Regions from separate parts of the Homo sapiens genome. Here region 2 is linked to region 1. The links come from fine-mapping of genetic effects on gene expression. A gene starts in region 1. The other region holds a variant in brackets. All regions are shown on one strand. Distances are from middle to middle.

What was found.
Region 2: its variant is fine-mapped to the expression of RNASE6 in whole blood (TOPMed, PIP above 0.99).

What each region holds. Positions count from the first base shown.
Region 1 is chr14:20,777,945-20,783,324 of GRCh38, reverse strand. It overlaps RNASE6 (ribonuclease A family member 6), which reads right to left and starts at 2,057. Exons shown (of 2, transcript NM_005615.5): 1 at 1,987-2,057; 2 at 858-1,630. The coding sequence starts at 1,625. The coding sequence ends at 1,173. All of the region lies in intron 1 of LOC107984671 (a long non-coding RNA gene), which reads left to right. RefSeq lists an enhancer at 913-982.
Region 2 is chr14:20,718,263-20,723,642 of GRCh38, reverse strand. It overlaps the pseudogene RANBP20P. Among named protein-coding and RNA genes, the nearest start is that of EGILA, 14 kb to the right of the region's middle. The variant T/C (reference allele first, on the strand shown) is at 2,695.

The DNA.
Region 1 (5,380 bases):
CTCAAACTCTTGGCCTCAAGTCGTCTGCCTGCCTCGGCCTCCCAAAGTGCTGGGATTACTGGTGTGAGCCACTGCATTGGGTCTCCTGGTGCTTTTCTCTTTTTCTTTTTTTGTTTTTGAGATGGGAGTCTCACTCTGTTGCCCAGGCTGGAGTGCAGTGACACAATATTTGCTCACTGCAACTTCTACCTCCTGGGTTCAAGCGATTCTCCTGCCTCAGCCTCCCGAGTAGCTGGGATTACAGGCACTGCCACCACGCCCAGCTACTTTTTTTGTATCTTTAGTAGAGATAGCGTTTCACCATGTTGGCCAGGCTGGTCTTGAACTCCTGACCTCAGACGATCCACCTGCCTCAGCCTCCTAAAGTGCTGGGATTACAGGCGTGAGCCACCACGACAAGCCTAGTGCTTTTTTCTTGATCTATGCTTTCTATTTATCCATTTCAATAAATAATGGAGGATTGACCCTAAGGTTACTACAATGGATTATTATCCCTATTACTACTACTATCACCTTATATTTAAAACATTATCTGATTAAAAACGGAAACAAATAGAAAAGACATAGGATCCTTCAGTTGCCAGTGACAGAATCTATGTGTGAGTTATCATCAACTGTCTTTGAGGTATCAGTACTACCTCCAATTAAGCATAGACAATGGTTTCCAGGGGAATATATAAAGTCATGAGCAGAGTTTGAAGAAATGCTCCAAAGTCCCAAACGCTGTCCTTTCTTGTGGGCAAGGAAGTGGGGCCCCAGGGAGGCCTCAAAAGTTTTCTAGGGACTTAAAGTCAAAACAGTGTTCCTCTGAGTACCGGTCAACAATGCTTTGAAAGCGGATCTCAAACACACACTCATTAGAATGCAGCAGGAAGTGGTTTTATTGCTGTGAACACAGGGCAATAAAGCTTGGCAAAAGTTGCAGGGTTAGAAATCTGAATCTTTCTTTGCTGTCTTCCCTATTCCCTTCTCTCGAAAAGTACAGAACTACAAAGCAGAAAATAATCTTATTTCTTTTTGTCTCAACTCTGGTCTGGCATCCTAGGCACTCGAATTCTCCAAACACCTTTCTTCTTTCTTCTACGGGAACAAGAAAATCAACAAAAGAAAAGAAAACATGGATGCAATTGTAACAGAAGCTATGTCAAATGAAAGGAAATGCAGTGGATGCCTTAGAGAATACTATCTAAGTGTACAGGAACCAACTTGTAGGGGGGATCGCTCTTCTGAGGGGGGTCACAGGCAACAATGAAGAATTTGTACTGGGCAGCAGCACTATAGCGGCACTGGGGATACTTTCCTGAAGTGAGTCTGCAGTCAGTCATGTTGACAGGCTTTGAGCTCTGGTGGCAGTTGTGCCGACGATTTTTGCAGACAATGCTGAGCAAATCACAGACAGCAGCCACATTCTGGAAAGAGTCATGCAGAAAGGTATTTTGATGCTTACAGTGCTGGGTATAATTGTTGATGCCACTCATTGCCCTGTTGCATTGGAGAGGACTTGGCTGTATATGCTGAATTTCAAACCAGTGAGCCTTGGTGAGACGCTTAGGCCAAGCATGAAGTGGACACACTGGTCCCCATAGAACCAGCAGCAGTAAAAGAAGAGGAAAGCATAGCACCATCTTTTCTGTGTAGAAAGAGAGAAGATAGTTATAGTAGGAGAAGCAATAAGAGCAAAATTTTTAATCATAACTATTTAGATTTTTATTTTGCCTTTTAAGATTTTACAGCTCCCTTTAAAATCTTCTTTCTCACATAGTCTCACAATTCTATGAAGAACCTGAAGCCCAGGAAACAGAAATATGACCTCTCCTTTGATTGGCATATCCCATTTTCTTTCACAAGTACTCATGCATTTGATGGCTGTCATATCAGAAAGTTTCTTCCCTCTTCCCTCCTGAAATATTTACCCTCTATCTGACCACTACCTCCCAGCCGTCTTTACTGCTCTACTCGCTCCAGCCCTGAGGCTTTCTTTCTTACCTGGTCTCAGTGTTGGGGCTCCTGCTGAGAACAGAGGCTGTGATTAGTCCAAAGCTCAGAAGCTGTTGTCTGCCTTTCTTCTCTAACCCTTCGAGCCCTGTGTGTATAGGGAAGGGGAAGAAATATTCTGAGCTTTCAGAAGGAGAATCCTAGGGTTTGGCAGATTAACTTCTTGTGCAGAGTCTGGATTAAACTCTTAGACTTTCACACCTGTTCTTTAAAACAGTATCATTATCACATGTATACAGGAAGGCTAAACCAACTTAAAGAAACAACATGACTGAAAACTCACAGTTTTGAGGAACTGATCACTTCCTGATATGGAATGAGTGCTTCCTGCCTCATCTGAGGCTTCAGTGTTTTTTTTTGAAGCTTTATGATTCCTGTTTCTTAAGAGAAAATATGTCACATAAATATGATATAATGCCTGCCACATACTTGGTAATGTTGTAAGTTCCTACAACAGAAGTGAATACATTATTCATTTATGCATATACTTATTGGGCCAGGTACTAGGCTACACAAATTCAGGAGCTCATGAGTTTTTTTTTTTTTTTTTTTTGAGACGGAGTCTTGCTCTGTCGCCCAGGCTGGAGTGCAGTGGTGCGATCTTTGCTCACTGCAAGCTCCACCTCCTGGGTTCATGCCATTCTCCTGCCTCAGCCTCCCGAGTAGCTGGGACTACAGGTGCCTGCCATCACGCCCAGCTAATTTTTTTGTATTTTTAGTAGAGACGGGGTTTCACTGTGTTAGCCAGGATGGTCTCTATCTCCTGACCTCGTGATCTGCCAGGAGCTCATGATTTAATGAAAGAGATTAGAGACAGGCAGGTAAGTATATAGACAAGTAGATTATATTAATATAAATAGCACTTACAGTGTGATGGAGGACACTGCAGGAGGCTACGGGAAGATAGTAGAGGGGAAGGATTGTTGGAGGGCACAACACCTGAACTGAATTTTGAGGAATAATTAGAAGTTAGGTGAAGAGAGTGTTAAGCGCCTCCCAAAGACAGAATTGTGTATGAAAAGACCTGTAAGCCTGAAGAAGAAGGCCGAATTTAGGATATTTGCCTCTTGAATCTGTTCTTACCTTTTCACTGGTACTGCAACACCCTTATTCAGAAACTCATTGTCTTATGGAGGGCTCACATAAAAGCCTCCCACATGGACTCCTTGCCTTGTTTTTTTCTCCTTCCAATCCATTCTACATATTACTTCCAGATTAGTCTTTTTTTGAACAAGATATAATAGTACAACACTCTTGCCCCATGCTTTTATGGCTCCAAATGTCTGCAGAATAAACATAATGTCTGTTTATAGCAAGGTTGCAGGATACAAGGTTAATATACAAAAGTCAGTTGCTTTCTTATATACCAGCAATGAACAATTGCAATTTGATATTTAAAACACAATACCATTTATATTGCACCAAAGAAAGTGAAATACTTAGGTGTAAATCTAATACATTATGTAAAAATTGGTATGAGGAAAAATTTAAAACTCTAATGAAAGAAATTGAGGAAGCACAGATATTCCATGTACATGAGTAGGAATACTCAATATGTTAAGATGTCATTTCCTCTCAACTTGATCTATAGATTCAGCACAATCTCAATCAATATCCCAGCACATTATTTTGTGGATAGTGACAAACTGACTCTGAAGTTTATATAAAAGTAAAAGATTCAGGTTGGACACGGTGGCTCACGCCTGTAATCCCAGCACTTTGGGAGGCCGAGGCAGGCTGATCACGAGGTCAAGAGATCAAGACCATCCTGGCTAACACAGTGAAACCCCGTTTCTACTAAAAATACAAAAAATTAGCCAGGCCTGGTGGCGGGCGCCTATAGTACCAGCTACTTGGGAGGCTGAGGCACGAGAATCGCTTGAACCCGGGAGGTGGAGCTTGCAGTGAGCCGAGATCGCACCACTGCACTCCAGCCTGGGTGACAGAGCGAGACTCTGTCTCAAAAAAAAAAAAGATTCAGAATAGTCAACACAATGCAGAAAAAGAAGAACAAAGTCAGAAAACTGACGTGACCCAACTTCAAAACTTACTATAAAGCTACAGCAATTAAGACAGTGTGTTATTGGTGAAAAATAGACAAATAGGTCAATGGAACCAAGTAGAAAGCCCAGAGGTAGACCCACACAAATACAGTGAACTAATCTGTGACAAAGGATCAATTTTCAATTGAGAAAAGTTAGTCTTTTCAACAAATGGTAGTAGAACTGAATGTACACATGCAAAAAATAAATCTTTTCATAGGTTAGACTTCATACATTTTCATAGACCTGTACTTTATATCTTTCACAATTTTTTTTTGAGATGGAGTTTCGCTTTTGTTGCCCAGGCTGGAGTGCAATGGCATGATCTTAGCTCACCACAACCTCTGCCGCTCAGGTTCAAGTGATTCTCCTGCCTCAGCCTCCGGAGTAGTTGGGATTACAGGCATGCACCACTACACCCAGCTAATTTTGTATTTTTAGTAGAGACAGGGTTTCACCATGTTGGTGAGGCTGGCCTCGAACTCCTGACCTCAGGTGATCCGCCCACCTCGGCCTCCCAAAGTGCTGGGATTACAGGCGTGAGCCACCGCGCCTGGCACAAATGTTAATTCAAAATGGACCATAGACCTAATGCAAAATACAAAACTACAAAAATTCTAGAAAATAACATAGAAGAAAATCTAGGCAGCCTTGAGTTTGGCAATGATTTTTTAGATACAATACCAAAAGCACAATCCATGAAAGAAAAATATTGATAAGTGGAACTTCATTAAAATTGAAAACTTCTGCTCTGCAACAGATACTATTAAGAGAATAAAAAGATAAGCCAGAGACTGAGAGAAGATATTTGCAAAAGATATATCTGATAAAAGAACATTATCCAAAATATACAAAGAACTCAAAAAACCTCAACCATAAGAAAACCAACAACCTAGTTGAAAAATGGGCAAAACATCTGAATGGTATGGGGCAAAGACAATTTTTCCTCTCCCTCTGAAGGTTCAAAACTTCTGAAATGAACTGACAATAGACAGATTAACAGGAGAAAAAGGCATACAAATTTATTACTGTGCATAATCATGGGAACCATACAAATTATGAGACTCAAAGAAAGACTAAATAGTTGAAATTCATGTATTCTCTTCATAGGGGAGAGGAACATGGGGAAAATGTAGGCAATTTTGAGGAGTTTTAAATATTTTTTAGGGAACTGGCCCCAAATAGCAGACAATAGTTTGTAAATGAGTCTCTTTGGAAGCTGAATGGAAGGGTGACGAGTTATGGGAAGGTGAAGGGTGGAACTGCACTATGAACAAAGGTTGCCTTATTATACAGATAAAGTCTCTTAGGTACTCTTTTGGAGCTGCTCTTGGAAGAATAGA
Region 2 (5,380 bases), 60 kb after region 1:
TAGGGGGCGGCGGCGGCAGCCGTGTGGGCTGAGGCGGCGAGGACAGCGCGGGCCCCTGGGCCTCTCCCCTGAGCCGGCTGCCCCGGCAGCGCAGCCAAGGCCCCGTCAGCCTCCGCCCCTTCAGCCTCCGGGCCGAGCCCGCCGCCACCTCTGCCCGCGGAGGCCGGGGAGCCCCCGCCTGCGCCCGCAGCCTCCCCCGCGCGGGGTTCGGGCCGGGCGGGGGTCCCGAGCTGCTGCCCTCCTCGCCAGCAATCGAGCCCCATTTCCTACTTTTTCAGTTTCCTTGTGGAGGGGCCGGTGGGTCTAGATGACTTGTCTCAGGGGCCCCCGATGAGGCGACCCAGGCAGCCCTGCCCTTTTTAGAGGATCCCCTCGGGGCCCGGGGGGGAAGGGGTTATCTTTGCATGGGTAGGGGACTTCCCTAGTCTGCCGGGACCATGACCTGAACTGGGCGAGTAGGATGTGTCCAAAGCCCAAGAACCAGCTCATCTGAGCCGCCCCCTCCCCGGCCAGCATGGCATCTGAAGAAGCCCCTCTCAGAGCATTGGAAAGGCTGATGACAGAACTTTTTCACGATGGTACGACCAATGAAAGAAAACGTGAGATAGAGGAGCTTCTTAATAACATTGCCCAGCAAATAGGAGCCTGGAGATTCTTCCTGTACTTTCTCTCCAGCACTAGGAATGGCTATGTAATGATGTACAGTTTAACAGTTTTTGAGAATCTGATCAATAAAATGTGGCTTGGGGTCCCATCTCAGGATGAGATGGAAATCCACAGCTGACTGCCCAAACTCCTTTTGGCTCACCATAAAACCTTACCTTACTTTATCCAGAGCAAGTTCTGCAAAGTTATTGTTGATATTGGACGTCAGGATCGGCCCATGTTCTACCATGACTTTTTTACTAACATTTTGCAGTTGAACCAATCCCCTGTGACAACCCCCCTTGGGCCGATCATGTTGAAGACAACTTCAGAGGAGCTGGCTTGTCCCCACGAGGACCTCAGTGTGGCTTGGAAGGAGGAGTTGCAGAAGCTGCCACTGGACCAGGTGCAGACAGTGCTTGGGCTGCTGACCGCTATCTTGGGGACTGTCTGGGACAAACACAGTGTTACTGCTGCCACTCCACCACCCTCCCCGACAGGAGAAAGTGGTGACTTACTGAGTAACCTGTGGCAGAGTCCTAGTTCAGCCAAACTGTTGAATCAGCCAATTCCCATCCTTGATGTGGTGAGTGAGTATATCTGTTCCCTTGCCTTGGAGTGCCTAGCCCATCTCTTCAGTTGTATTCCTCTGTCTGCCGGCATCACCCCATCCCTCCTTACCACCACCTTCCACTTTGCGTGATTTGGCTGTGACATCCGTGCCAGAAAGATGGCGTCAGTTAACGGCAGCAGCCAGAACTGTGTCTCGGTTCAGGAGCGGAGCCGGCCGGGGGTCCTGGCCATGCCCTGCATCAGTGAACTCATTTCCAAGAGCTGTGTGCCGATGGAGTTCGAGGAGTATTTACTGCTTATGTTCCAGCAGACTTTCTACCTCCTGCAGAAGATCACCAAGGATAACAATGCCCACACAGTGAAGAGCAGGCTAGAAGAGCTCGATGAGAGCTTTATTGAGAAGTTTACTGACTTTCTTTGGCTCTTTGTGAGTGTTCACCTAAGAAGAATCGAGTCTTACTCCCAGTTCTCTGTGGTGGAGTTTTTGACACTTTTGTTCAAGTACACATTTCATCAGCCTACTCATGAAGGTTAATTCTCTTGTTTGGATACTGGACACTCTTTTTGGACTATCTGACAAATAAAATTAAAAGTCATCTTGAAGACAAGGAAGCAGTTCTCAACAGGTACGAAGATGCCCTGGTGCTCCTCCCCACAGAGGTGTTGAATCAAATCCAGTTCAGATACAACCAGGCCAGCTGGAGGAGTTGGATGACGAGACTCTGGATGACGATCAGCAGATGGAGTGACAGCGGTACTTACGGCAGAGCTTGGAGGTGGCGGTCAAAGTGATGGAGCTCCTGCCCACGCACACGTTGTCCACACTGTTCCCAGTTCTTCAGGGCAATTTAGAAGTTTATTTGGGATTACAGCAAGTTATAGTTACATCAGGGTCAGGACACAGGTTGAACATCATGGCAGAGAACGACTGCTGGTGGCTGCACTGCTCCCTGAGAGACTTGAGCTCCCTGCTGCAGGCCATGGGCCACCTGGCCGGGTACTTTATTGGGGATGTGTTTGCTGCATGGTTCAATGATGCCCTCACAGTTGTGGAGAGTTTGGTCAAAGTCACTCTGTATGGATCTCAGATAAAGTTGTACAACATTGAGCCAGGTGCGGTGGCTCACGCCTGTAATCCCAGCACTTTGGGAGGCCGAGGTGTGTGGATCACAAGGTCAGGAGACTGAGACCATCCTGGATAACATGGTGAAACCCTGTCTCTACTAAAAACACAAAAAATTAGGTGGGCACGGTGGCACGTGCCTGTAGTCCCAGCTATTCGGGAGGCTGAGGCAGGAGAATCACTTCAACCAGGGAGGGAGAGGTTGCAGTGAGCTGAGAACGTGCCACTGCACTCCAGCCTGGGCAAGAGAGCAAGACTCCGTCTCAAAAAAGAAAAAAAAAAATTGTGCAACATTGAAACTGATGTGCCATCAGTATTGAAACCTGACCTCATTGATGTACGTGCTCAGTCCC[T/C]GGCTGTGCTGCAGGCTTACACTCACTGGTTAGTGCAGTATTGCAGTGAAGCTCACCAGCAGAACACACAGCAGTTCGTGACACTCATCCCTATTACCATGAATGCAATCACACCTCTAATCAGCACCAAGTTCTCGAAGCAGCAAAGCCTACCGTCTACACCTTTTATCTAACTCTGTCTCTCCTTCTGTTCCTATACCCATTTATTAGAAAATCTAAATATGACACAGAGTTAGACCCATAAATCTTTCCGCTTTATAAAACTGTTATTTCATCTTCCTTTTTACTTGTAGCCCACATGCATTCAAATACAACTTTACTTTTTTGGTTATATAAGTTCCACATGCTCACTGTGAAAAACCAAAATATTGTTCAGATTTCCAGACTAAAAAGTTGTGATACCTTTGAAACATTTTCCTTCAGGCGGTACACACAGTTGGGCATTGGTTGTGCAGGCACACCTCGTTTTGTTGTGTTTCCCTTTATAGCACTTCGTAGATACTGTGTTTTTTACAAGTTGAAGGCTTATGGCAACCCTGCATTGAGCAAATCTGTCAGCGCCATTTTTTCAACAGCATTTAGTGCTTCCATGTGTCACATTTTGGTAATTATTAGAATATTTCAAACTTCTTCTATGACTATATCTGACAGTAATTTGTGGTTAGTGATCTTTGATGTTACTATTGTAATTATTTTGGGGTGCCACAAACTGAAGATGGCAAACTTGATTGATAAATGTGTGTGTTCTGACTGCTCCACTGATTGGCGGCTTCCCCACCTTCCTGTCTTTAGGACTCCCTATTCCCTGAGCCATTTAGTAACCCTACAATGACCTCTATGTGTTCAAGTGAAAGGAAGAGTCACATGTCTCTTACTTTAAAAATCTAGAAATGATTAAGCTTAGTGAGGAAGGCGTGTCAAAAGCTAGGATAGGCCAAATGCTGTTGAGCCAGTTAGTCAAGTTGCGAATGCAAAGGAAAAGTTCTTGAAGGAGATTAAAAGTTCTGCTCTAGTGAACACACAAGTGATAAGAAAGCAGAACAGCCTTATTGTTGTTGACACGGGGAAAATTTCAGTGGTTCGGATAGACCAAACCAGCCACAACATTCTCTTATGCCAAAGTCAAAACCAGATCAGGCCCTTCAATTCTCTGAAAGCTGAGAGAGGTGAGGAAGCTACAGAAGAAAAGTTGTAAGCCAACACAGGTTGGTTCGTGAGGTTTAAGGAAAGAAGCCATCTCCATAACATAAAAGTGCAGGATGAAGCAGCAAGTCCTGAGGAGAAGCTGCAGCAAGTTCTCCAGAAGCTCTAGATAAGATCATTGATGAAGGTGGCCACACTAAACAACAGATTTTCAGTGTAGATGAGACAGCTTTATAGTGGAAGAAGGTGCCATCTGGGACTCCCATAGCTAGAGAGGAGGAGTCAGTGCCTGGTTTCAGAGCTTCAGAGGGCAGGCCAACTCTCTTGTCAGGGGGCACCTGCCACTGGAGACTTCAGGTTGAAGCCAGTGCTCATGTATCATTTGAAAATCCTAGGGCCCTTAGGAATTATGCTGAATCTACTTTGCCTGTCTCTATAAATGGAACAACAAAGCCTGATTGACAGCACATCTGTTTACATCATGGTTTACTGAATATTTTAAGCTCATTATTGAGACCTGCTCAGAAAAAAAAGATTCCTTTCAAAATACTACTGCTGATTGGCAATGCACTTGGTTACCTAAGGCCTCTGATGGAGATGTTCAAAGATATTAATTTCCATAGTTTCCATGCCTGCTCACACAACATCCGTTCTGCAGTTCTGCAGCCCATGGATCAAGGAGTAATTTTGGCTTTCAAGTCTTATTACTTCAGAAATACATTTCATAAGACTATAGCGGTCATAGATAGTGGTTCCTCCAATGGATCTGGGCAAATAAATTGAAAATATTAATTCAAATAATGGAACTCATTTCACTGCACATATCATTAAGAAATTAGCCCAAGCACTAGACATAACGTGGGAATACCATACTCCTTGGCACCCACCTTCATCGGGAAGAGTAGAAAGAATAAATCAAACCGTGAAGAGTCACTTAACCAAATTAGTCTTAAAGACTCAGTTGCCATGGACTAAATGCCTTCCCATTGCCTTGCTAGGAATCTGAACCACCCCTCAAAAAGATGTTGGCCTATCCCCATATGAGATGCTATATGGGTTGCCCTATTTACACTCCACTGCTGACATTTCCACCTTCGAAACAAAAGATCAGTTTCTCAGACATTATATACTTGGTTTATCTTCCACTTTCTCTTCCCTTAGAACTAAAGGTCTTTTAGCACAGGCACCATCCCTGGAGTTCCCAGTACATCGAAATCAGCCCGGGGATCAAGTCCTCATCAAAAACTAGAAGGAGGAAAAGCTGGAACTGGCCTGGGAAGGACCTTATCTAGTGCTCCTAACTACTGAAAGCGCAGTCCAGACAGCAGAAAAAGGATGGACCTATCACACCCAAGTCAAGAAAGTGCCGCCCCCTCCAGAGTCGTGGGCCATAGTCCCAGGGGAAAACCCTACCAAACTAAAGCTAAGAAATTTTTTTTTTTTTTGAGACAGAGTCTTGCTCTGTTGCCCAGGCTGGAGTGCAGTGGTGCGATCTTCACTCACTGCAACCTCCACCTCCCGGGTTCGAGCAATTCTCCCGCCT